Linked DNA regions of Homo sapiens. The protein of the gene in region 2 binds, or shares a complex with, the protein of the main gene of each other region. Each region holds a gene or a part of one and is shown on either strand. Other genes may lie near its edges. The genes, in order: TFDP2, E2F1, RB1 and CCNA2. A codon is read from its position in the direction of its gene.

Region 1 (7,466 bases), on a different chromosome or scaffold from region 2:
AGGAGAACCAGCTAAGATCTGTGCATTACCAGTTGTTAAATATTTTGACTGTCACCCCTGTTCATAATCTAAGACCCTGTGGAAAATTTCACATGTACAAAGGAGACAGGAATATTCATAGCATCAGAATATGAAAAAAGGTAAAAACTCCCAAATGCCTTTCAGTAAGAGAATGGATTATCTGCCGGGCATGTTGGCTCACATCTGTAATCCCAGCACTATGGGAGGCCAAGGCAGGCGGATCACTTGAGGTCAGGAGTTCGAGACGAGCCTGGCCAACATAGTGAAACCCCGTCTCTACTAAAAATACAAAAATTAGCTGGGATTGGTGGCGCGCACCTGTAATCCCAGCTACTTGGGAGGCTGAGGCAAGAGAATCACTTGAACCTGGGAGGCAGATGTTGCAGTAAGCTGAGATTGCACCACTGCACTCCAACCTAGGCAACAGAGCAAGAGTCTGTCTCAAAATAAAATTAAAAAAAAAATAATAAAATAGAATGGAGTATGTAAATGTTATTTTTGCATTAGTGAAAATGAATGACCACCCATCAAGATAGATGACCCTCTTAAAATGTTGAACAAAAAAAGATTGGCAGATGAATAATAAATTTTATTCTAAATTTATGAAGTTCAAAAACATGAAAAGCTAAGCAATATATTATTTGGATATACATACACGTGTGTTAAGATTATAAAGAAGAACATGGAAATTATACACAGAATTTAAGATGTTATTTTGGAAAGGGAAAGTTGTGGGGACACACTGGTAGGGGGCACATGAGGTTTCAATGGTGTTAATAATATGTTGCTTAAGCAGGTACATGAGGGTTTATCATGATTCCTCATATCTCACATTTACTTTATATTTTTTAGGGTGAATAAAATATTTTATCCTAAAAATATTTTAGGTTTGATATTAAGGGGTTACTTTTATTAAGGGTGACTTTGAAACCTTTCTACTGCTCTAATGCAGTCATTCCAGAAAACTGGGGAGAGGTTGAATCCCTCCCTGAGGAAATTCCGAGGCTTCGCCTCTACTCTGTCCTATTAAGGTGATTAAACTGTACATAACAGGATTGTCTCTAGAAGCAAGACCCAGATTTAACACTTATAAGTGTTATTTCTTTTGTCAGTCACTAGATGGATTTGGTGTGAAAAGAAGATGCTTTAAAAAAAAATCTGAAACTGTTCTGACAACTGCAGATCTTTTCATGTGATAAAAGGTGTCACTAAGGACCTTCTTACTCCAAGTGTGATTTTTGGCTGCTGAGGCAGCACCAGCATCACTTGGAAGCCTGTTGGAGATGCAGAATTGAAGCCACACCTTACAGACTGAATTGTAAGATTCCCTAAGTGATTACTGTGCACCTCAAGGTTTGAGAGGCAGTGGTCCAGGAGTCTGGTACTTCCACCTGCAAAAGCAGTATCCAGTGCCAGCAGAGGGGGCAGCACGTGGAAATGCCTCAGGTTTAACTGTAATGGACCCGTCTTTTTCACAACCCTCTTTGTGTTGGCTATTCTGTGGCCCGCATATTTCTAAATAGAGTAGACTTTATTATACCTCTCTCCTCTTTCCAAATTTGCTGGGCTGTGGACTCTCATCTATTCAATAAAAACATTGAACTTCCATTAAGCACTGAGGAGATGATAGTGAATAGAATGATATGACTTTGACTCTAGAAGCTTACAGTCTAATGGGATGCAGGTAGCAAGTGAGTAATTACAAGTTTAATGAATGTTGGAAAGTCAAAGAAAATTTTATGGGAAAACAGTTGGAGATGGGGACTCCGGGGAAGCTTTTCTGGAGAAAGTGTTGTTTAAGTTTAGATGAAAAGGCATGTGCAGGTGAGTTGTGGGTGAACTGGGGGATTGTTCCAAGCATAAGGAATGCCAATGAATGGTGCTCTTTGGACATCTGTTTGTATTGCCAGTGCCTTGCATAGTTCTTGGCATACAATAAGTGCTTAATAAATGTTTGCAGAATCAATAAATGTTCTGTCACATTTCAGATGTCTACTCTCTGGCATTGGAGATGGTGGAAACTTTATTTTCCTTTTCAAAGGAAATAAGATCCCTTAATGGGGAAATAAGAAAGAAAGCTGACTGTTGTGCAAATTGCTAAATTGGAACTATGAGTGGGAATGAAAAATTGATTTACATGAATTTTCTTCCCTGTAGCAACTTGACAATTTATTCTGTTCTGGAGAATTCTCAGTTTTTGGCTTAAAAACCAAGCTGTTCCTCCTTATTCTGAATTTCTTGGCCTGCTGTGAAACTAACATTTACTGTCTTTTACAACATGCCCTGATTAGGTCATGGAAATTCACAACTAAATCAAACTAGGATATGGAAAATTTGAAACTTTCACTGCCCATTTTATGTAATGGCGTTGGAAGGTGTTATAAAACATTGACTTTTAAATCTTTATTTTCAAAAGCTATATTATACGATGAATATAATAATTGCCATCATTTATTGAACACTTACTACATGCATTACATAGCAAAATCCTCATACTACCTCTGCAAGAGAGTAAGTTGAACCATATGAAAATTGCCCAATATCAGCAATTTCATGTGGTTCAACCTAGTATCTTCAGACTCTGACCTATAAAGAGGTTAGGGAATCCCTCATAGCCATAACTTCACTCCAAATTTAGTACTGAATCTTTTAGTACTATCTTTTATAGATAAAGAGATCCTAAGATAGTTACAGCTCCTCTATGACAGCGACCCCTTTCCCTACATTAGCCCAAGCACTTTGTGTGTGTACTTCCATCATGGTTATTTACGCATTGAATTGAGGTGGTTTACAATCCATTTCCTCTGCTACACTGAGTTCCTTGAGGGTGGATGTTTTGTCTGTCTTGCTCATTTTTGTATACGTAGTACCTAGAGTGAAAAGTATTTGTTGAATATAACTTTAAGTTTTCTTAAAGTTATATTTTTTGTGGAAACTAAATTTTTATTGATTTGTTACTGGAGAATGTGAAGTAATCACTGGGGTTTTTGCATTTTAGAATCAGTCAGTGGAGTACTGCATTTGACATTCTTGGACTCTCAGGACTAGTTACATGCAATTATGCATACAATTGTCTCTCCACCCTGCCCCAGAGAAAGATCTGAAAGTGCTCTCTTACCTATCTCATCTCCTTTAGGCATTTGCTTAAATACCACCTTCTCCGTGCTACCTTCCCAGATCACTCTATTTAGGACTGAAGCCATTCCTCCAACACCTCTGCTTATATTTTTTTCCCATAGCACACATACCAGCATGTAATATAGTTTTTGTTTTACGTATTCTTTTGCATATTATCTTTCCCATCCTGCTAGAATGTAAGCTCCATGAAGGCAGGAGTTTTTGTCTCTATTTTGTCCACTGATGTCTCCCCATATCAAGAATAGTGTTTGGGGCCGGGCGTGGTGGCTCACGCCTGTAATCCCACCACTTTGGGAGGCCCAGGCGGGAGGATCTCTTGAGTCCAGGAGTTCCAAACCAGCCTGGGAAACATGGCGAAACAGCCGGGTGTGGTGGCGCGGGCCTGTAGTCCCAGCTACTCGGGAGGCTGTGGTGGTAGGATCACCTGAGACTGGGAAGTCAGGGCTCCAATGAGCCGTGATCCTGCCACCGCACTCCAGCCTCGGTGAGAGCAAGACCCCGTCTCAAAAACAAACAAAGTGGCATATAGAAGATCTATAAGATTTGACTGGAGTAAAATGAGAAAGATCTAATCGTTTTAATGCGCTGTTCACACGGGGTTTTTAACTTCGGCACGAACGAATGAACAAAATCTTTTCATATGGAACCAAGTGTACGGGTATTTGGGGTGTGTGCAGTTTCCGCGGGACAGAATGACCTGTCCTGGTTTGGGTATTAACTTGCCTTGATATTGAAGAACCTCCACATTCCCAGTGGTCTCTAACTCATTGTCTGAATAATTTCAAGGTGTCCCACAGTTGGCCCCACGCATAGCCTCAATCACGATCACTCGCCCCCCTGTCCCTTATTGATGCTCCCCCAGGGCGACCCCGCAAAGGCCTGGGGACCGAATGGAACTGCCCCAGTCCCCCTCCTTCCAAGAGAGCTGGGGTTTTCTGGCTTCGGGGTCAGTTGGAAAAGAGATTCCCACCCAAGTCGCAGGGTGGGAGTAGGGGGGATGAGATAGGAGTGATGAAGGAAGTGTGTCTAAAATTCTAGGCCTCAGGCCCGCAGCTGTCCCTGGAGGCGGCGGGGAAGCGGGGTGGTCGGGTCCTGCGGAGGGCTCCCAGGGAGGCCACAGGGGGAACCAAGGGGCGGTGGCTGAGTGCACGAGTCCCGCCCCTCCATCTGTTGGCCCCCTACTCTCAAAGGGAAGCCTGGGGGCGGGGTTTGTTTACTCCGTGCACGCACTGCCGGCCCGGCCAATCCGTGGGGAGCGGCGCCAGGCGTCGCACATTCTGAGGGCCAATCGGCGCGCACTGTGCTGCTCCGCCGCCAAAGCTCGCGCGGGGGAAGCGGGGCTGTAGCTGGGCAGGGAGAGGGCGGACGAAATCGGTAGCGATCTCGGCTGCGGCGCTGCCGCAGCTGCCCGGCCCGCGGGGCGCGCCCTGACCCTTCATCTTTGGGCAGGCTCGAGGGCGCGCGCACGGTTGGCGTTCTGGGGCCTCAAACTCCTGGGCCTTGACCGGGCAGGCCGCGTCTCCCCGGGTGTGAGTCCACCGGGACCCGGCCGCCGCCTAAGCGCGGGCGCCACAGAAGCGGCGGCGCCCGAAGACGCGCTCCTGGCTCGGCCCGACAGCCTCGCTTGGCCGCCAGTTCTTCTGCAGCCGAAGGCGGTAAGGTCTGGGGCGAGGGCGCGGGCCCGCGCGCGGAGGGCCTTTGGACCCGGCCGGGCGCGTTCCTGGGTAGGTTTCCCTCCCTGCGCACAGGGGCCCCCTTGTTCCCCCACGAGTCCCATCTGTTTAGACCTGGGTTCTCCAGGCCTGGCCGGGTAACCCGTGAGTGTCTGGGCCAGAGTCGAAAGCAGAGGAGGGTCACCCTCTTAGTGCATAGAGCAAATCGGGGGAGGTAACGTCCCTGAGTCACGCCTCGTGGAAGAGGGGAAGGGCTGCTTTCTACTTTCTCGTTCTCTTCAAAGAAGGATGGCTTCTAAATCTGGTTTTCCGATTTTTCCCTTCTCCTTTCATGACTCACAGGCCTCTGTGTCCACCAGGTGTTTTGTTTGTTTTTAAAGAGTTTCTAAGCTTTGTGTGCTTGGAAGAACCTCATATGCCCCATAAAGGAACTTTTCTCTGAAGTAGAGGATCGCTTTTTGGGCCCAGACTCCTTTGAGAAAATCTGGAAAGCCAAGGTCTGTCTTCACAAAGAAGTGTAAGGGTTTTCCTAGGATCTCGCTGAGAGACAGTACAACGAAGTGGATGAGCGCCCCAGTCTCTCTTACCAGCCTGTGCTATCTCCCATTGTGTGATCTCGGTTTCTTCATCTGTAAATTAGATGCATCCACCTATTCGGTGTGTTTCGGGGAGTGAATGGACTAATGTATGGAATGCAATCGTAAGAAAATCCTCCACGTATTAAATGCCTTGCATTAGTTAGGCACTTTTATTATTGACTGCCATGGATGCTGGTTTAGAAAAAGACCCTATATTATTTCCCTTTTAGTGTTGAGACAGTGAACGGGCTCATTCCTTTTCCATATTCACTGCTGAAGCTGCCTTTGAGCCCATGAATACTTTTATCTTTTCCTCATTCCATCTCAGAGGGCACAGACTCCCTCTCACTTATTTGCTTTCTTTCAGTAAGGCTCTCTTTTAGCTCAGCCTTCTCCTTCCCCTGTCTCCCCGAGATCTGAGTTTTGTGTCTTTTCATTTGACTTGCACAACCTACTTTTTTTTTTTTCTGGGCCATGTGTTTTCTCTTCATGGCTTGAATTTATCTTCACCTAATAAATAATTTACCTGTTTTTTTTTTCAGCTCGTGAATATATATTCATCTATTTTCTATATGGCATAATCATGTCCCTGTCTCTCTTTAAAAGTAGATATAAAAATAGTTTAATTGATCTATATTGCAGCTTCCTTTTCCATTTCATTGTTTAGCCTGTTATTTAGCTAAACTTTATCACTATCAGATTACTGTAATTAATCTTTAATGGCAGTGTCCATTCTCAGACAGCACCAGGAGAAAAATCAAATGCCTAGACCCCAGATTCTGTCACACTTGTGTACTGGCTCTGGATGTGTTTGTTATTTATTAGAACATCTTGTGCCTGTAACTAGTCTAGTCTAAGAGTAGACATGGTGTCTGTAGCGTTGTTCTGGCTGTGCAGTTGCAGTTTGAGCACTGTGGCCCTTACATTTGTTAATAAAAGGTTCAAGACTTACTAAACTCTTACTTTTCAGTTCTCTTCATTTCTAGGTGTTTAAAAAGGAAAGCTGAATTTTTGCAGTGTGTAATACTTCATATTCTCATTTTGTGATCATGTAATTCCTCCCACCCTGACTCTTGTGAATGTGTAGTCCAAGTGGCACATGGAAGTTTTTCTCTGGCAGCTAAAATTCTTAACTGTCTGAGCCGTGTGCCCTCAATATAACTGATGAAGTGGGATGTACTTCCTTGTCATCATCTTTTAAACTCTTATTGCAATATGTGTTATAATGGATCTCAGAAGAAACTAGAAGGCATAGATTGAGAGTTCTTTTAGATCATAGAATTTTAAATTGTAGTGGATTTTAAAGAGAATCAAATACACTCACCTCTTCATACTTAAATCCTTTCCGTTTTAATCTGGGATACATGACTCTAGGTGTGCGGCATGAATAGATATGAAAGTAGGCTTGTGAACTCTTGGAAATATTATGCAAAATTATGCATATTTGTATATTTTTTGGAGAGACTATTTATAGTGTCATAGTTTCTGAGGCAAAGATATTTGATCAATTCTTTTTTTTTTTTTTTTTGAGACAGGGTTTCTCTATGTTGCTCAGGCTTGTCTGGAACTCCTGGGCTCAAGTGATCCTCCCACCTCACCCTCCCAAGTAGCTGGGGTTATAGGCACACACCTCGCCATGTTTGGACAACTCTAATTTTTATAAAATTATTTCTTTCACTGAACTAGAAATTGTGTCCTCACTGTCTCTTCTGTATTGTGGGTTTTCAACTATTTGAAGATACTTATATTCCACTGAGTGTTAGAAAATATTCTCAGTCTTTAACCTCTGCTAGTGACTTTTGTGTCATTGTTTTCATTCACATCTCCTCACAGAACTCATAGCCCACTTGTGGATTTGTTTAGTTCATCCACATTCTTCTGACAAGCATGGTACCCCAAATTAGGTATTAACTAGTATAGAAGACTAAGTTACCTCTCTAATTTTAAAGCATGTACTTTAAGAGTAGACTTGCTTCTTTGGCAACCACATTACACTGTTACTTTATAATAATTTACTAGTTAAGAAGATTAACTTTGGGGCTAACCTTCCTGTGTT
Region 2 (7,029 bases):
CCACGCGCACACATGGACTCATGCACACACATGTGGACACACTGGGGCGTGTCTGCAGTGCACACACAGAGGTGTATGTTCACCTTCATTCCCCGGTACATGCACACACACATGCTCACACACATTCACCCCCGGTACACACGTGTGGGTGTAGGCTGCATGCACATACACACCACACAGACTCCTTCCCTTCCTGGCTTGCTCAGCCTCCTAGCGGTAGCCAGACCCCAGAGCTAGAAGCTTCTGGAGACAGAGGAGAGGGGTATAAATTAAATGTTTCCAAACAGGCTGGGAGGACGGCCAGGGACAGGGGGCTCCAGGGCTGCAGAGACAAGGTGAGCATCTCTGGAAACCCTGGTCCCTCCAAGCCCTGTCAGAAATCCAGGGGGGTGAGGTCCCCAAAGTCACAGTCGAAGAGGTCTCTGATGCCCTCGCCCTCCTCGAGGCCGAAGTGGTAGTCGAGGGCCTCGTGGGGTGGGGAAAGGCTGATGAACTCCTCAGGGAGGAGGCCGGAGAAGTCCTCCCGCACATGCTCCAGGAGCGAGTCGGCCGCCACCAGCGGGGACAGGCGGTCCTCGTCCACGGGAGCCCGCAGGCTGCCCATCCGGGACAACAGCGGTTCTGGGGAGACGGGGAGCATCACAGGCCGGGGATGCCCCAGCAGGGAGGAAGGCAGGGGCTGTCGTGCCTGCCCACCCCCCAGAAGAGGGGCCCTGCCCCACCCCACCCACCTACCCATCACCCACCTTGCTCCAGGCTGAGTAGAGACTGGCTGGGATCTGTGGTGAGGGATGAGGGGGGAGATGATGGTGGTGGTGACACTATGGTGGCAGAGTCAGTGGCCCTGTTCTCCTCCTCAGAAGTGACCTCCTGGGATGGGGTCTTCCCAGGGCTGATCCCACCTACGGTCTCCTCAGGGCACAGGAAAACATCGATCGGGCCTTGTTTGCTCTTAAGGGAGATCTGAAAGTTCTGGGTGGAAGCAGCAGGCAGGGTAAACTGAGGCCCAGGTGACCACCAGCCCAGCCCAGCCCAGCCCAGTTGGGCCCGGAGTTCCCAGATCTCACCTCCGAAGAGTCCACGGCTTGGAGCTGGGTCTCAGGAGGGGCTTTGATCACCATAACCATCTGCTCTGCAGGGTCTGCAATGCTACGAAGGTCCTGACACGTCACGTAGGCCAGGGTTGGCAGAGTCAAGGACCACATGACCTTTGACTTCTAGGGGGTCACTCACTCCAACAGCTCACAAGGCAGGGCTCACACCTGCCTAGTCACTCCTGTCCTCCCAACCTCCTACCCACTCAAAACCTACCTCACGCCTGAGTTTCAAGTTCCACATCTGTATAATGAAATCACTCTACCCATTGAATCCCAAGGTAATAATGGCTACCGGGAACGATTCCATGTAAAATGTTCAACACAACTCCAGGCCTGGTGCTGGGAATTTATTTTTTAGAGGCAGGGTCTCGCTATGTCACCCAGGCTGGAGTGATGTGGCTCAACCAGAGCTCACTGCAGCCTCAAACTCCTGGGCTCAAGTGATCCTCCCACCTCAGCCTCTTGAAGCACTAGGATTACAGGCATGAACCACCGCACCTAGCCACTTTTCTTTTTTAATCTGTACAATTTCAGAATTGGATATTATTATTCCCCTTTTATAGATAAAACTGAGGCCAAGAGGTTAAGCAATTTATCCAGTGTCACAACAGTGAGAAAATGCTGAGCCAGGACTTGCAACCAAAATCAGAGCTCTCTCTTAAATCCAAGCCTCTCTAGTCCCACTTGGGTGGAGCCCCTGCCTGCTAAGCCTGCCTTCCACACCCTACGGCCAATCCAAGGATATCGCTGGCTGTCAGTGTCCTCGGAGAGCAGGCGCAGCTGCGTAGTACAGATATTCATCAGGTGGTCCAGCTGCTGCTCGCTCTCCTGCAGCTGTCGGAGGTCCTGGGTCAACCCCTCAAGCCGTCCGCCGACGCCCACTGTGGTGTGGCTGCCCCTGTGGGGAGGCACCAGGGAGGGTAGGGTTAACAGCGATTGGCCCCTCTGGCCAGGAGCCCTGGGCCTCAGGACAGAGTCTGCTGTTGCCTCTGTTCTGTGAGGCCTAGGCAAGCCCTTGCTTCTGTCTGGGTCTGGCTCCTCAGCTGGGCTCCAAATCAGAGTGTCATGGGCTTGAAGTCTGGCCCGAATATAAACACCTACATGTCCCTCAACCAGGGCGGGATAAACAAATGATGGGACTGACATGCCACGAAATATTACACATGCACACACACATGCATTTCCAAGACATGCTGTCAAATGAAAAAAAAAAAAAGGCTGGGCTTGGTGGCTTATACCTATAATCCCAGCACTTTGGGGGGCTGAGGCCAGAGGATTGCTTGAGCCTCAGGAGTTTGAGACCAGCCTGGGCAACACAGTGAGACTCTGCCTCTACACAAAATCAAAGACATTAGCCAGACATGGTGGCATGTACTTGTAGTCCTAGCTACAGGTACGGAGCTTGAGCCCAGGAGGTTGAGGCTGCAGTGAGCTGTATTTGTGCCTCCATACTCCAGCCTGGGCGACAGAGCAACACCCTGTCTCAAACCACCCCCCTCCACCCAAAAAACCACAAAAGATGCAGAATGGAACGATCTACCAAAAAATGAAACGGCAGGTGTATCAAAGAAAGGGTAGTAGCATGATGACTGGCGCGAAGGCGAGAGGGGGAAAATAAAACAAGAATAAAATATCTATGCCAGACAGATCTCACCGAGGGCATGAGAAGCCAGGATAGTGGTGACCTGGCGGTGTGAGGGGTTGGCAATGACTGGAAAGGGGCACAAGAGAACCTTCTAGGGTGTTGAAAATGCTCTTATCTTGATCTGAATGGTGGCAACCCAGATGAATAAATATATAAAGCTGCGCGGGGCGCAGTGGCTCATGCCTGTAATCCCAGCACTTTGGGAGGCTGAGGCAGGCAGATCACCTGAGATCAGGAGTTCGAGACCAGACTGGCCAACATGGTGAAACCCCATTTCTACTACAAATACAAAAAGTAGCTGGGCATGGTGGCAGGCGCCTGTATCCCCAGCTATTCAGGAGGCTGAGGCAGGAGAAGCACCTGAACCTGGGAGGTAGAGGTTACAGTGAGCTGAGATTACACCACTGCACTCCAGCCTGGGTGACAGAGTGAAACTCCATCTAAAAAAGAAAAAAGTAAAGCTGCAACTGAGGTGGATATGTAAGATTTGTGTGCTTTTTACCATCTATCATCTCAGGGAAGCTACCTCTCCTCTCTGAGCCCGTTTCCCCAGCTATAAGATGGGGATGCAGGCAGCCACAGTGGGTATTACTACCAGCTCCTCCAGGCTGGCATGGGCAGGTGTGCCTGCCCTCCTGTGTGGCCGGTACCTACAGCCACTGGATGTGGTTCTTGGACTTCTTGGCAATGAGCTGGATGCCCTCAAGGACGTTGGTGATGTCATAGATGCGCCGCTTCTGCACCTTCAGCACCTCGGCAGCCCAGTTCAGGTCGACGACACCGTCAGCCGAGTGGCTCAGCAGCTCCAGGAAGCGCTTGGTGGTCAGATTCAGTGAGGTCTCATAGCGTGACTTCTCCCCCGGGGATTTCACACCTGTGGGGGTGTGGTCAGGCAAGACAGGGCCCTTCAGCATCCACCCCCACCTCCAGCCAGGCCTGCCACTCTGGCAGTGCAGGGCAGCAGGATGATGGGGGCTGGGGGACAGCCAGCTCCTTCCCCTTGGCGAGGCCAACCACAGCATTCTTCTTCTGGCTGGGGAACTCCTCACCCCTCAGGGCCTGGAGAAACCAAGCCAGGTGGCCACTCCAACTGCCCATCAGGGTCCTCAGAGGCCTGGCTCAAGCCCGACAAGCCAGACGTTAGCTTGCAAGCATGTTTGTCTGTTCACATCCCTAACCTGGGCCTGGTCACAGGGGGTCTGCCCAGCCCAAGCTCCATAGGTACCTTTTCCTGGATGGCGGCCTCTGCCCCGAGCTGGCCCACTGCTCTCGGCCAGGTACTGATGGTCAGTTTCCAGGTCCAGCCTCCGCTTCACCTGTGGCGAAAACGGGAGGATGCCCAGTAACCAGGAGTGAGGCCAGAAGAGACCTGGCTTAAGGCTGGGTGCCTCTGGGCTACCCTCGCCTCAGTTTCTCTAGCAGGATGCCTGAGTGTGTGACTGAGGGAGATCAGAGGGGACATAGCCTGAGAGTCACAGTCCTACCACACAGGACATTCCATTTTCACCACTTCTCTGGGGTCTAGCGGTGGATTTAAAACACATCCGCAAACTTTCTGATCCTTCTCCTTCAAAAGATATAGCCTAATTCTCCCCTTATGAGCCAGACCTGGTAACTTGCTTCTGGGGATGAATGAATGGAATGTGGTGGAAGGGATGGCCTGTCACTTTTGAGACTGGGTCAGAGGCGCTGGAGCTTCCTCCTTGCTCTGTATTGGGTCACTTACTCTGCCATATCATATGGGCACTCAAGTAGCCCTAATGATGGGCAAGAAACCATGGCCTCCTCCCAACAGCAACACTTAGTCACAACTTCTGTTAGCAGCCAGAACCCAAACACTGGCTGAATCTCCAGAGACCCCAAGCCAGAGCTGGATAAGTCTTCCCTGAATTCCTGACCCACAAAAACTATATAATAAATGTTTGTTGTTTTAAGGCACTATTTTTTTTTCTTTTTTAGACAGGGTATCGCTCTGTTGACTATGCTGGAGTGCAGTGGTATGATCACAACTCTCTGCAGCCTAGACTTCCTGGGCTCAAGCAATCCTCCCACCTCAGCCTTCCAAACAGCTGGGACCACAGGCGCATCCCTCCAAGACCAGCTAACTTTTCTATTTCTCGTAGAGATGGGGTCTCCCTATGTTGCCCAGACTGGTCTCAAACTCCTAGGCTCAAGCAATTCTCCCATCTCAGCCTTCACTGTAGTCGTGCTGGGACTAGTCAGCCACCATGCCCAGCTAAGCCACTGATTACATAGGTCCCTTGGCTAAATCACCTTCTCTCTGGTTTTTGACTAATCTATACGCATGGTAGCAGCTGGTGCTCATCAAGTTCCTTGCATCCATTAGTTCATTCCATTCAACGGACTGGCTGTATAAAAATGGCCCCATTTTCCAGATAAGGCAACTAAAGCCCAGGGAGGCCCAGGAAGTGGTAGAGTCAGGATTTGTACCCAAGACGGTCTGAGGAAGAACCCAAGCTCTAAGCACTCTGGCTTAGTTCAGACACTCCAGGATTGGGACTGTCCTGGAGGTCTCACAGGCTGCTCAAAAGTACCCGGACCAAAACCAGACTGATCTTCCCCTCCACCATCCACAGGGTTTCCTGAGCTAGAGTTCCTGACCTGTCACCCTCCTCACATGCAGCTACCAAGAACTGCTCATCACCACGGCGATCACCACCTTCCCAGTGGGCTGCTGAGCAGACTCCACACTGGTCTCCCTGCCTCTGCTGCAGCCAGTCCTCCTACAAACCTTACCATGCCGCCGCCCCTGCTTAAGGCCTTCCTCCAGCTCCCCATTGCCTTTGTACTCTCATCTGCCACTGCTTCTCTAGAGGAACCCGAGTCACGTTTTCCCAGAAATCTAGACTGCCCTTGCATCCCTCCCACCCTCCCCACTTCACGCCTGCTCCCTCTACCTCTGTGGGCAGAAACCTTACGCATCAGCTAGGAGGTGTCACCTCTTCTCCCTCTGAACTGCCTCAAACCCAACCTTTTGCCACATTCTGTCTCTCCCTACACATTTCTGCAGATGTATCTATCTCACCCTCAGAGGTGTCTGAATCACTTGAGAATCTATAGTGTCTGCCATGGAGCCTGGCATCAACAAATGTTTGCTGAATGAACCCCCCCCATGCTGATGAACCACTCCCTCTTGTGCACATTCACTGACTTTTGAAGGCACCCAGGGGAAAGAAGAGCTGTTGTGCTCTAAGCACTGTGTACTCAACTGCTTCCCCTGCAACCCTCCGGCCACCTTTTGGCAGGTGCTATGATGGCCTCCACCTGAGAGAGGCCACACAGTGAGAGGTGGACCCAGGACTTGCACCCTAGTTGGCTGGTACAGAGCCCACACTCATACCCGCCACGTGCCCCACCTCCCCAGAACCCAGCCAGAATGTATCCCCCTCCATACTCGCCCCTGGGGCCCAAACCCTAGCATGCTTCTGCCATCTGCACCCCTTGCCTTCTCCCTGGGATCCCCACCCTTGTCCACCCCTGAAGGCAGGTCAGTGCCACGCCCTAAAACAAAGGCTTGAGTGGATGCCATTTCTGCCACTTCTCCCTAGATAAACACTGGCAGAGGGGCCCCGAAACGCAGGGGTGAAGACATTCACTGCTGAAAAAATCTGGATGACTCGAACACCCATCCATGAAGGGGGTCACGAAAGCTGTGCTTTGTTTAGCCCCTTGAACACCACGCAGCTGTCAAGGACCGAGGCAGGTTGACAAGAATCCCCTCACACATACAGACAAGCAAAACACTGTCACAGGGCGATATATTTATATGATCCCTTTTGGATTAAAAAGCTCATGAAACTTTTCTCTGGTTCAGTTTATATTATTATAGAATACATTTCGGGGCAGCCTCTGGAAGGACTGTGGGAGACCAGTGCCATATCTGAATGGTGTGAATGATACAGGAAAAACTACAATTTTTAAAACTTTAAAAAACAAAAACTGTCACAACCACCACAAACAAAAATAGCCTTAGGGAAAAAAAGGAAAAAAATGAATAGGGCTGGGATCCTGCCGTCAACTTTCTAGTTTCTTAAGAGTTAAGTTTTTGGCCAGGCGCAGTGGCTCACGCCTGTAATCCTGGCACTTTGGGAGGCCGAGGCGGGCAGATCACTTGAGGTCAGGAGTTCAAGACCAGCCTGACCAATATGGTGAAACCTCATCTCTACCAAAAATACAAAAATTAGCCGGGTATGGTGGTGCACGTCTGTAGTCCCAGCTACTCGGGAGGCTGAGGCAGAAGAATCGCTTGAACCCAGGAGGTAGAGG
Region 3 (7,029 bases), on a different chromosome or scaffold from region 2:
AGACTCCGTCTCAAAAAAAAAAAAAAAAAAAAAGAATAAACATACAGAGCAATGGAATAGAACTGAGACTCCAGAAATAAACCCTGGTTTTTATAGTCAACTGATTTTCATCAAGGGCACCAAAACAATTCAATGAAGAAAGAATAGTCTTTTCCATAAGTGGTGCAGAGACAACTGGATATCCACATTCAAAAGACTGGAGTTAGACCTCTTCCTCACATCATACACAAAAATTAACTCAAAAAAAAAAAACAAAAAAAAACCCAAGACTGACAAGAACTAAAAACCATATGACTTTTAGAAGAAAGCACAGAATAAGTCTTCATGACCTTGGGTTAGTCAAGGCCTTCTTAGATACAACATCAAAAGCCCAAGCAACCAAAAAAAAAACCACCACCAAAAAAAAAATAGAAAACTGGACTTCATCAAAATTAAAATCCTACGCTGCAAATGACATCATCAAGAAAGTGAAAAGGCAACTCACAGAATGGGGGGAAAAGTCTGCAAATAATATATCTTATAAGAGATATGCATAAAGGAGAAGCTTTAACTGCATCTTAAAAACAGAATTTAGGCTAAAAGAAAAAAGAAGGGTATTCCAAAAAAAGGGGAGATCGCATGAATATGAATACTATCATATTCATATGGAAGATATTCATATGGAAGATTCATATGGAAGGGAAGAGAACACAGGCATTGGGGGCCAACAATGGAAATAAAAAATAAGACTGGAAGGAAGGTTAAAGCACAGACCATGAAGAACTACAAATACTGAGAAAGTTTGGACTTTACTTCTTCATAATGGTGGTGGGAGCATGGGAGGGTGTTACAATGGAGGCTACTGAGAGTGGGTTGTAACAATGAAAAATAAATTTTAAAGCAAAAGGGGCAAACTGTACACCAGTCTTTTCTAAAAATCAGGCACAGGATGGATTGGATGGAGAAAAGAAGAGACTAGTCAGAAAGAGGCACTAAAACATGCATAAAAAATGCTCAAGTCAATGACATAAGCTTCCACCTTCTGAAATTAAAAAAATAAAAAGGAAATTAAAACCAAAGCAAACAGTAAAAACCAAGCACTGCTGGTAAAAGAAATGAAGGGACAGACGTGAGAGGCAATGCAAAAAGATAACTTGAGACTGAACGGATAGGTTTAAAATAGAAGGAGTCTGGTATAGTTTTAATTAGTCCTATGGACAGACACTGAATACCAAGGTAAACCTGTAAAGAAAGCAAATGGTAGTGTAAAATTCCACTTCTTCCTAGAATGCAGAAAGCTGCAAAGAGTATTGCTCCCACCCTCACAACAAGAACAAGCCAGATAAGGAACAAAAACAACCTTTCTTGAAATCAACATATCCTTTCCTTATATTTCAGATTATTTAATTTCCCCTAAAAAAAGGAACCTCCAATGAGAGAAAAGATATAAATAATGGCTCATCTGTGGCACAACATGAAAGGAAGAGACACAGGGAACCCTAACAAAAGTAAAAAGTATTCAGCTAAAAATTTTTAATGAATGCTGATTACAAAACAACAAAAATCCATTTAAATATAAAAAAGAAATAGGTTAAAATCAAAATGAAGGTAAACGATACACATTGTAAAGAGTGATCACAAGAAAAGTGGAATCGATATGTGGACACTGCAGAACAAAAGATATAAATTTGGATAAAAAAGCACATTACATAATGATAAAGGTACCAATTTACCTAAAAGGCATAAAAATTCTAAACTTGTATGTACCCAAGGATAAAGCTTTAAAATACACTAATAAAGGCCAGGCACAGTGGCTCACGCCTGTAATGCCAGCACTTTGGGAGGCCGAGGGCAGATCATGAGGTCAGGAGTTCGAGACCAGCCTGACTAACACGGTGAAACCCCGTCTCTACTAAAAATACAAAAATTAGCCGGGTGTGGTGGCGCATGCCTATAATCCCAGCTACTCGGGAGGCTGAGACAGGAGAATCGCTTGGACCCGGGAGGCAGAGGTTGCAGTGAGCCGAGATCGTGCCACGCACTCCAGCCTGGGTGACAGAGCAAGACTCCATCTCAAAATAAAATAAAATAAAAAATACATTAATAAAAAACAGAATTTAAAAGGACCATTCTAATTATAGTTGGAGGCTTCATATTTCTCCCTCAATAATTAGTAAAACACATAGAAAGAAAATCAGTAAGGATATGGATGATCTACTGTACCTTTTCTATGTATAGATATACAAATACTTACCATTGTGTTACAATTGCCTACAATGTTCAGTACAGTAACATGCTGTACACATTTGCAGACTAGGAGCAACATGCTATATACCACACAGCATAGGTGTGTCATAGGCTATACCATCCAGGTTTGTGTAAGTACATGCTATGATGTTCACACAACGATGAAATCACCTAATGATGCATTTCTCAGATGTGTTCCCATTGTTAAGCAACACATGACTGTATTTATTTAAAATATAACCACCATATCACAAAAATAAGTAAGTGGTTCTATCAAGAGCAATATATCCCAAAGCTCTTTGAGATATGTATATCATACATTTCATATACATATATATGTATGTATAACAAAAAGCCTATGAGGTTCACATTCAGGCATTATTTCTGCCTTACAGGTGAGCAAACTGAGACTCACAGAATTAACCAATTTGCCTAAAATCATATAGCTACAATATAATTACAACCAAAGTTTCCTGCCTTGAGGTCCAAGGCATTTTCCATTCTACCATACTACCAATCAAGATGCAGAAAGTAAACCAAAATTCTAACAGCTGATTCACCTTAAGTCACAATATGAACATCACCTTAGCCAATTTCTTAATGGAAAGTCCTATTCATATGCTATAATCAGCATAAATACAATCTAACCTTATGAACAAAGCTAATCTTTATTATTACACTTTACTAAATATTTATTTTAAAAAAAGAAAACACTTTTCTAGACAAAATACCACAAACTTTTCCTTTAAAGGGATTAATATATGCTTTCATGTATGCATAAACAACTTTTCTGATGCTAAAGTACTTAAAAATAAGAATTTTAACAAACATTACTACATCAAAATCACTACAATGCATTTAAAATTGTAACCATTTTAACTGATATCCTAAGTTCTCCTAAAAAAAAATACATCAATGATAAAATTTTCTGGGGTATTTCTTAAGTAAAATTATTCTGTTTGCAAGACCTAATATACATACTCATTGACTCTAATAAGAGCTTTATATGCATTAATTTATTTAATCTGCACATAACTCCAAGATCCAGAAATTACTGTCAGTCCCTTTTACAGGTAAGAAAACTAAGGCTTGAAAATTGTAGATAACATGTTCAAGATAATGGAGTTCGGACATGGTATATCTGTTTGACTCTTAATCCTTGCTCTTAACCCATCCTCTATCCCAATAAACATCACCTACTTTCTATTGTTAAAAAGGGTTTCCTTTTTGACAATATTCCTCCTCTTGTTTCAAAGAAGAGAGACAACTGCCACTAGAATAGCTGCACTGGAAACACATTTATTCTGTCATTACATTTGCTTCTTAGAACACACTGTATCACATTCTCCCTTAGATATTATTATATAAATGAAGGTTAAATTCTCAGGCCAAACCTCAAAAACGTAACTCTAACTTAAAATCATATTTCAAGGAAAAGTCTGTTGATTTACAACAGGACAACAGGACATCATCTTCCATCATACCCTTCAAAAGCACACCTCAAATCCCAAAAATAACATGAAATTCCTTTCTTACCTTCCTCCAGTACCTAGCCATAAATAATTTCACACATCCTAGTCCCCATTATGAGCTCCATTAGGAAATAAGATTCAAACTGGGCCAGTTCCCAGGGAAGGTAGAGACAAAGCCAGGATGAAAAAGGGTAATAAAGCAGTAACATTTGCTTATATATGTATTCAATTCTGAAGCTCAAAAGAGCCTCTACTGTTAAAACTATTATTGTTATAGTTTAGTACAAAAAAAAATAAGTTATGTGAACCAGGCTGGAAACCTAACTACTATATCAAACTTGCAAACAGATTTGGAACACAATGCACTTATAAATTGAAAACTACAGTATGTATATTCACTAATGCTCTTTATAATCAGCTATCCCTTCCAAAATTTCTGAACACTAAAAATCTAGTATTTTAGGAAGAGAAAAGTGAAGGAGCTCTGATCCCATTTAATTGTATATGCACAAAAACAGCTTTGTACATGAGGTACCCAAGTCAGTTAAAATATACATTAGATGCCTGGGGATTATAATACCCAAGTCATACATTCAAGATACTTCAGTATTCCTCTCTTTTTACATAAGAAATGTGAGACTATGTTCAATTCTTTGGAAATCATGACACTTGTTTTCTCCTTTTTACTGCCAGAGATTTTATTTAATGGTTTTAAACAATTTTCTTATGGGACATACATAAACACATTCCGCTGTGTTAATCAGATCAGTAAAAACAGATATATACTCTTATACTACTATGTTGAGAAAGTAAATTCATTAAAAGTATCTGTCTGAAGTGTAATCTAGCAATAATCATCAAGAGTCATAAAAATGTTCATAGCTTTTGATTTAGTAATTCAACTTATAAGAATTTATTCTAATAAAATAATCAGAGATTCATTCATTAATTTATTTAACAAGTTATCAAGGACTCACTTTGTGCCAGGCATTATTCTTACGAATACAAATGTTTATTACATTATTTTATAGCATCAAAAAGTTGGAAAAAACCCAAATATCCAGTAAGAGTTAACAAATTAAAATACATCCACTAGCTAAAATATTATACTATCACTAGAAACTATATTACAAAAAAACTTTAATAAGAAAATGCTCATATGAGAAAAAAACAGGAAAATACAAAACTATGTGTAACTACAGGTAACTATACATAACTACATGTATAATCTCAAATTTATATTTGAGATCTTATTTCCTAGGGACCTTGGTCAAGTTACTCAACCTCACTCTACTCAGTGTCTTCATCTGTTAAATGAACATTTCACATTTTACACATAAAAAAAGATTTTATATTTCATATCTCAATGATTTTTAAATGAGTTATTCGTAGATTTGTAAAGTTCTGGGGTTTTTTTTGTTTTTTTTTTGAGATGGAGTCTTCTCTGTTGCCTAGTCTGGAGTGCAGTGGCATGATCACGGCTCACTGCAAACTCTGCCTCCCAGGTTCAAGCAATTCTCCTGCCTCACCCTCCCAAGTAGCTGAGATTACAGGCATCTGCTACCATGCCTGGCTAATTTTTGTATTTTTAGTAGAGATGGGGTTTCACCATGTTGGCCAGGCTGGTCTAGAACTCCTGACCTCAAGTGATCACCTGCCTGGGCCTCCCAAAGTGCTGGGATTACAGGTTTGAGCCACCACGCCCAGCCTTATTTTTATTTATTTTTTTTTGCAACAGGGTCTTCCTGTGTTGCCCAGGCTGGAGTGCAGTGGTGCGATCTTGGCTTACTGTAACCTCCACCTCCCAGGTTCAAGTGATCGTCCCACCTCAGCCTCCCAAGTAGCTGGGACTATAGGCACACACCACCATGCCCGGCTATGTAAAATTCTTATACTATTGCCCCAGTACATATAAAACTCTAGTAATTATTTGCTCCTTTTATTAAACATATACATCTATACTTACGCAAAGAAAAAATGAAAGGAATATATCAATATATTTTCAAGATCCTGAATTCTAACAAAACTAATTCTGAGTCAGTCAGGAAATCTGAACACTGATTGCATATTAGAAGGTATAAAAATTATTTTATAAGGTATGGCGGTGTTTTTTTAAAAGTCCTTGTATCATAGTGAATAAAATATAACTAAGACCTGCTTTAAAATAGTTTGGTGGGAGGCATTTATGGAGGAATTTTTTTCAAACTTTTTTTTTTTTTGAGACAGACTCTCGCTCTGTTGCCAGGCTGGAGTGCAGTGGCACGATCTCGGCTCACTGTAACCTCCACCTCCTGGGTTCAAGCAATTCTCCTGCCTCAGCTTCCCAAATAGCTGGGACTACAGGCGCACGCCACACCCTGCTAATTTTTTTTTTTTTTTTTGTATTTTAGTAGAGACAGGGTTTCACCATGTTGCCCAGGCTGGTCTCGAACTCCTGAGCTCAGGCAATCCACCTGCCTCAGCCTCCCAAAGTGGTAGGATTACAGGCATGAACCACCGTGCCCGGCCTCAAACATTTTTAATGTTAGCAGAGGTAAATTTCCTCTGGGTAATGGAATTATTATTAGCTTTTATTGTCTTTATATTTTTCTATCTTTCAATTTTTGTATAGTGATTTGAAGTTGTTTTTAAAATGAGAAAAAAAAATTTCAAAACGTTTTAAGAAAATCCTTACCAATACTCCATCCACAGATGAAACTTTCTCCCAAGTTAACCAAGCTCTCTCTCTGACATGATCTGGTATCTTTAATTTCTGACATAATGCAGTAAAATCAGGTTCTTCTGTTTCTTCAAACTCAAGCCTACCAAATGAAAATAATCATATAATTGGCATATACTTATAAATCAAATTGATTCAGTACATACTTGTTTCAATAGTTTGCACATAACACTACTGTGAAAAAGAACATTATTAAATACTTTAAGATCTTATTTTATCTTAGAAAAACATTACACTTCAAATTTAAACATATGATTATCTTTTTCATGGTCATTCCAAAATAAGGATACCACACAGTGAAAAATATTTGCTTGCATGGTAAGTCAAATATACTTCAAAGCAGCAAAACACTTCTGTGAAGGAAAGTAAATGTAATAGCTAAAGCTGTTTGGGAAAATAGGATAAAGATAACAACAAAAAGATAAAAACCCATAGATAATATTATACAATTCAACGCCAGTGACTTTGTTAAACTGTAGTCTTCTCTTATCAATGTTTCATATATCTCTCTACCTACTAGCACATCTTACATGATGCGACTGCTTATTTTTGTCCTTTCCCCTTAACAAAGACAAGCATTTAATAAATTCTTGTTGGCTAATTCATTTTCAT
Region 4 (4,969 bases), on a different chromosome or scaffold from region 2:
TTTAAATTTTTAAACTAATGAATTATTCTAATGCTACAGTTAAGTTTATAGCATGTAGCCTCTCGTAATTAATGGTAAAATAATCTAATTGCAGTTTTTACACTAGAATAATTTTAACACTATAAATAATTTTCTCAATAGGTTAAATGTAAACCTAAAGTGGGTTACATGAAGAAACAGCCAGACATCACTAACAGTATGAGAGCTATCCTCGTGGACTGGTTAGTTGAAGTAGGAGAAGAATATAAACTACAGAATGAGACCCTGCATTTGGCTGTGAACTACATTGATAGGTTCCTGTCTTCCATGTCAGTGCTGAGAGGAAAACTTCAGCTTGTGGGCACTGCTGCTATGCTGTTAGCCTCGTAAGTCTACCTTGGTTTGTTTAAAAGTGATCACGACCTTTTGTCTAGGGAAGAAATTGATTTTTTTAATGGTGACCTTTTAACATACACCAGGCAGAGTCAGTGACTACTTTAGGGATGGCAATGTGCTGGGGCTTAGGGCAGTGGAGGAGGATGAAACTGTTCTAATCTAGAACACTAATTTTCCCCCAACTGGATTCCTTGAACATGATATAGTACACTAGGTTACAAATTTTAAAACATTTTCCTTCCAATATTACTTTCTGGCATATAAGCAGTGTCTCTTTTATTAAGAAGTAAAGGCTGGGTGCGGTGGCTCGCGCCTGTAATCCCAGCACTTTGGGAGGCCGAGGTGGGCGGATCACTTGAGGTCAGGAGTTTGAGACCAGCCTGGCCATCATGGCGAAACCCTGTCTCTACTAAAAATACAAAAATTAGCTGGGCATGGTGATGCATGCCTGTAATCTCAGCTACTAGGGAGGCTGAGGCAAGAGAATCGCTTGAACCCAGGAGGTGGAAGTTGCAGCGAGCTAAGATTGCACCACTGCACTCTGGCCTGGGCGACAGAGCAAGACTCTTGTCTCAAAAAAAAAAAAAAAAAAGAAAGAAAAACTAAATTTAAAAATGAAAACATGAAACATGTTTTCCTAAGACTTGTATTTCCTAAATTTTCAGCTACTTGGTGAACTCTGGCATTGTTCCCATCTCGAGAAGTCTCATGCCTTTCATTTACTTCCTTTGACTGAACTGGGGAAAATATCTCAAAAGTCCTTTATTGATTTGGGCCTTTTAATTAGCAATTAGCTATCCAGTCTCTACTAGAAATGATGATCAAGTGTCTGGAAATGCAGTTGGTGTGGATTTTGGATTCATTCCATATTCTGCTAATGGGATTTCAGAACTGGGATAAGGAAGCTTGCTTCTCTTTTAGGACTGATTACTTAAAACTTTTTTCATTGTAGAAAGTTTGAAGAAATATACCCCCCAGAAGTAGCAGAGTTTGTGTACATTACAGATGATACCTACACCAAGAAACAAGTTCTGAGAATGGAGCATCTAGTTTTGAAAGTCCTTACTTTTGACTTAGCTGCTCCAACAGTAAATCAGTTTCTTACCCAATACTTTCTGCATCAGCAGCCTGCAAACTGCAAAGTTGAAAGTTTAGCAATGGTGAGTTAACTTTCATTTTGTTGAATGGTGATTCTTTGGTAATAATTAGGGGTAAGCCCTAATTCCTTTGTAAAGGAACCTAGTTCCTTTGTACAGCAGTGGTGAAGAGATTTAGTATTCAGAGGGAGATTAATGCTGCAGTATGGAAGAAAGCCTACTGCTGGCAAAAGATAATCTATATCAGGAAAGCACTAGAAGCAGAGGTCTAAGGATGACATCTTGGGGATGGGTAGTCAGAAGAGTTGTTTTTTAAAAGTTAATAAAGGAGGGAAAATACAGGATGAGGATGGAACAAAACACTAAAATGATTGATATGTTTAAAGATGAGGCTGTGAGATATTTTTTCTAGAGTTGCTACAGAGCCGTTATCAAAGGCAGGAAAAAATTAGGTTAGAAGGCAGAGGTTTGACATTTGAATTCTAAACGCTCTTGTGATCATAAAGTATTTTTTATTCCAGTTTTTGGGAGAATTAAGTTTGATAGATGCTGACCCATACCTCAAGTATTTGCCATCAGTTATTGCTGGAGCTGCCTTTCATTTAGCACTCTACACAGTCACGGGACAAAGCTGGGTATGTATTACGGTCTTCACACACCTATCTTGTGACTGAAATGCCTGTGCCAGATTAAATAATAATTGTCCTACAAAACTGAGGGTTGCCTAGATGTTCTTACTTGGAAAAACTTCAAATATATATAGTTGACCTTTGAAAAACACAGGTTTGAACTGTGTGAGTCCACTTACACATGGATTTTTTTCCAATCAAATGTGGACTGAAACTACAGTATTCAGGGGATTCACAACCCATATATATGGAAGGGTGACTGCAGGACTTGAATATGTACAGATTTGGGTATATTTGGGAAGGGTCCTGGAACCAATCCCTCATGTACACTGAGGGATGATTATATACTGTTTAAGGCATGTTACCTGTTGAACAGTGTTTGTTAGGTAGTAAGCTTAGTTGTAACTTGGATTGAAAGGTGAGCTTTTTTAAAAGCATCTGACCTGTTGCTGGCAGGGAAAGTAGTAGAAAATGGATCGAGGGATGGAATAATGGCCTGAGAAAACTAGTAGTTGGAAAAGTTAAAGATTAGTACTGGAATTTAACATAAGCTTAATGCCAACTATTTACTGTGTTTGGTGTGTTACTAAAAGCAAAACTCAGGGGTTCTCTATTCCCTTCTCTGTAGCCTGAATCATTAATACGAAAGACTGGATATACCCTGGAAAGTCTTAAGCCTTGTCTCATGGACCTTCACCAGACCTACCTCAAAGCACCACAGCATGCACAACAGTCAATAAGAGAAAAGTACAAAAATTCAAAGTAAGAATTAACTTGGATATTGAAGCTTACTTTTCTAGATTATGGTTCAGAGATCTTTGACATTTTAACCTTATTCATGAATCTGCCATAGCCTCCTTGAGAAGCTGTTCTCTAAATTGGTTATGTGTTTGAAGAAGGTTGTAGTTCATGCTTTCTGCCCTGGGTCTGGGGGAGAAGAGAGAAGGAAGGGGGCATGCATGTGTGTTTCAGGGACCAGACAGTGTTTCTAAAACCATCAAGTCGGTCAGACAGAAATAGCATTTTTTAGTTCCCAATACATGAGTACAAACATTATTCCATGATCTCCTTTACCCAGTGAGTGTTTACTAAAAATGCTTTTTTTTTCCCTACTTACAGGTATCATGGTGTTTCTCTCCTCAACCCACCAGAGACACTAAATCTGTAACAATGAAAGACTGCCTTTGTTTTCTAAGATGTAAATCACTCAAAGTATATGGTGTACAGTTTTTAACTTAGGTTTTAATTTTACAATCATTTCTGAATACAGAAGTTGTGGCCAAGTACAAATTATGGTATCTATTACTTTTTAAATGGTTTTAATTTGTATATCTTTTGTATATGTATCTGTCTTAGATATTTGGCTAATTTTAAGTGGTTTTGTTAAAGTATTAATGATGCCAGCTGTCAGGATAATAAATTGATTTGGAAAACTTTGCAAGTCAAATTTAACTTCTTCAGGATTTTGCTTAGTAAAGAAGTTTACTTGGTTTACTATATAATGGGAAGTGAAAAGCCTTCCTCTAAAATTAAAGTAGGTTTAGGAAAACAGACCCTCAAATTCTGACATTCATTTTCCTAAGCAACTGGATCAATTTGCTGACTTGGGCATAATCTAATCTAAGCATATCTGAATACAGTATTCAGAGATAGATACAGTAGAGATTCCCCAGACTTTTTCGCTCTTTGTAAAACCTGTTTGTTTAGGTTTTGCGAGGTAAACTCAACAGAGGTTGGGAGTGGAAGAGGGTGGGAAGCTTATATGCAAATTAACAGACGAGAAATGCTCCAGAAGGTTTATTATTTTAAAGCACATTAAAAACAAAAAACTATTTTTAAAATCCTGCTAGATTTTATAATGGATTTGTGAATAAAAAATACCCAGGGTTCTCAGAATGGAATAAATATCCCTTTTAATAGTTATATATACAGATATACAACTGTTAGCTTTAATTGGCAGCTCTCTTCTTTTTTCTTCTTTTCACTGGCTTTTTACTTGGTGCTTTTTCTTGTTTTGCACTGGTGGTCTGTGTTCTGTGAATAAAGCAAAGTAAGAATTTACTAAGAGTATGTTAAGTTTTGGATTATTGAAATAAGAGGCATTTCTTAGTTTTCCAGTAGGATCTAAAATGTGTCAGCTATGAGTAAGACTGGCATCCAAGAAGTTTATATTATAGATTTAGGTCCTAATTTTTATAAATCACAAGGTAAAAAAATCACAGAACAGATGGATCTCTAATGAAAAAGGGATGTCTTTTTGTTTATAGTCATGTGGCAAGATGAGAGTAAAACCAGAGAGCAAACCTCTATAAGTGTTGAGTATATGTATACATTTGAAATAAACCAGAAATTTGTTACCTTATTTTCTTTGGATTCTTGTCTGGTTCCAAAATGATCATTTCTTCTTCTTCACTATCTGAGAGTATTATGGGAGCATCTTTGTTTTTTTATTAATTTAAAAAAAAAAAAAAAAGTTAAGCAATCTCTTGCAAAATTTATTTCTACATGAATTTATTTCTATCAGACGTTCTAAACTCTTATTTCTGGGGCTGGGCGTGGTGGCTCACACTTTTAATACCCACATTTTGGTAGGCTGAGGCAGGTGGATTACCTGAGGTCAGGAACTCGAGTCCAGTCTGGCCAACATGGTGAAACCCCAGCTCTATTAAAAATAATAGAAAAATTAGCCAGGCGTGGTGGCATGTGCTTGTAGGCCCAGCTACTCGAGGCTGAGGCATGAGAATCGCTTGAACCCATGGAGGTGGAGGTTGCAGTGCCACTGCACTCCAGTCTGGGTGACAGAGCAAGACTCCATCCCAAAAAATAAAAATAAAACTCTAGGTGGAGGCTTAATCTTTTCTTTAAATC

What was found.
Region 1: E2F1 (region 2) and TFDP2 share a complex: the UniProt entries of both Homo sapiens proteins name them as parts of the DRTF1/E2F transcription factor complex.
Region 3: the proteins of E2F1 (region 2) and RB1 are in contact, whole or in part, in a crystal structure (PDB 2AZE), measured with the Homo sapiens proteins. Residues at the interface, in NP_005216.1 of Homo sapiens: Ala267 (codon at 1,109), Pro268 (codon at 1,106), Pro269 (codon at 1,103), Glu270 (codon at 1,100), Thr271 (codon at 1,097), Gln272 (codon at 1,094), Leu273 (codon at 1,091), Gln274 (codon at 1,088), Ala275 (codon at 1,085), Val276 (codon at 1,082), Asp277 (codon at 1,079), Ser279 (codon at 1,073), Glu280 (codon at 1,070), Asn281 (codon at 972), Phe282 (codon at 969); in NP_000312.2 of Homo sapiens: Ser829, Arg830, Ile831, Leu832, Val833, Ser834, Ile835, Phe845, Ile848, Met851, Val852, Asn854, Ser855, Arg857, Val858, Leu859.
Region 4: the proteins of E2F1 (region 2) and CCNA2 are in contact, whole or in part, in a crystal structure (PDB 1H24), measured with the Homo sapiens proteins. Residues at the interface, in NP_005216.1 of Homo sapiens: Val88 (codon at 4,058), Lys89 (codon at 4,055), Arg90 (codon at 4,052), Arg91 (codon at 4,049), Leu92 (codon at 4,046), Asp93 (codon at 4,043), Leu94 (codon at 4,040), Glu95 (codon at 4,037); in NP_001228.2 of Homo sapiens: Met210 (codon at 199), Ile213 (codon at 208), Leu214 (codon at 211), Trp217 (codon at 220), Glu220 (codon at 229), Val221 (codon at 232), Glu224 (codon at 241), Arg250 (codon at 319), Gln254 (codon at 331), Tyr280 (codon at 1,371), Ile281 (codon at 1,374), Thr282 (codon at 1,377), Asp283 (codon at 1,380), Thr285 (codon at 1,386).

What each region holds. Positions count from the first base shown.
Region 1 is NC_000003.12:142,146,531-142,153,996, reverse strand, and holds the start of TFDP2 (transcription factor Dp-2), read left to right. Parts: upstream 1-4,452; 5' UTR 4,453-4,814; exon of another isoform or gene 4,815-4,883; intron 4,884-7,466. UniProt on the Homo sapiens protein: Can stimulate E2F-dependent transcription.
Region 2 is NC_000020.11:33,676,359-33,683,387, forward strand, and holds part of E2F1 (transcription factor E2F1), read right to left. Parts: intron 4,059-7,029; coding exon 3,968-4,058; intron 3,617-3,967; coding exon 3,397-3,616; intron 1,996-3,396; coding exon 1,843-1,995; intron 1,184-1,842; coding exon of another isoform or gene 1,183-1,183; coding exon 1,068-1,182; intron 973-1,067; coding exon 747-972; intron 622-746; coding exon 374-621; 3' UTR 1-373. UniProt on the Homo sapiens protein: Transcription activator that binds DNA cooperatively with DP proteins through the E2 recognition site, 5'-TTTC[CG]CGC-3' found in the promoter region of a number of genes whose products are involved in cell cycle regulation or in DNA replication.
Region 3 is NC_000013.11:48,306,750-48,313,778, reverse strand, and holds part of RB1 (retinoblastoma-associated protein), read right to left. Parts: intron 6,500-7,029; coding exon 6,373-6,499; intron 1-6,372. UniProt on the Homo sapiens protein: Tumor suppressor that is a key regulator of the G1/S transition of the cell cycle. The hypophosphorylated form binds transcription regulators of the E2F family, preventing transcription of E2F-responsive genes.
Region 4 is NC_000004.12:121,815,938-121,820,906, reverse strand, and holds the end of CCNA2 (cyclin-A2), read left to right. Parts: intron 1-141; coding exon 142-365; intron 366-1,327; coding exon 1,328-1,535; intron 1,536-1,993; coding exon 1,994-2,107; intron 2,108-2,729; coding exon 2,730-2,863; intron 2,864-3,220; coding exon 3,221-3,269; 3' UTR 3,270-4,050; coding exon of another isoform or gene 4,051-4,135; 3' UTR 4,136-4,459; downstream 4,460-4,969. Other genes in the region: EXOSC9 (exosome complex component RRP45), read right to left, coding at 4,051-4,135, 4,460-4,538, 4,713-4,763. UniProt on the Homo sapiens protein: Cyclin which controls both the G1/S and the G2/M transition phases of the cell cycle. Functions through the formation of specific serine/threonine protein kinase holoenzyme complexes with the cyclin-dependent protein kinases CDK1 or CDK2.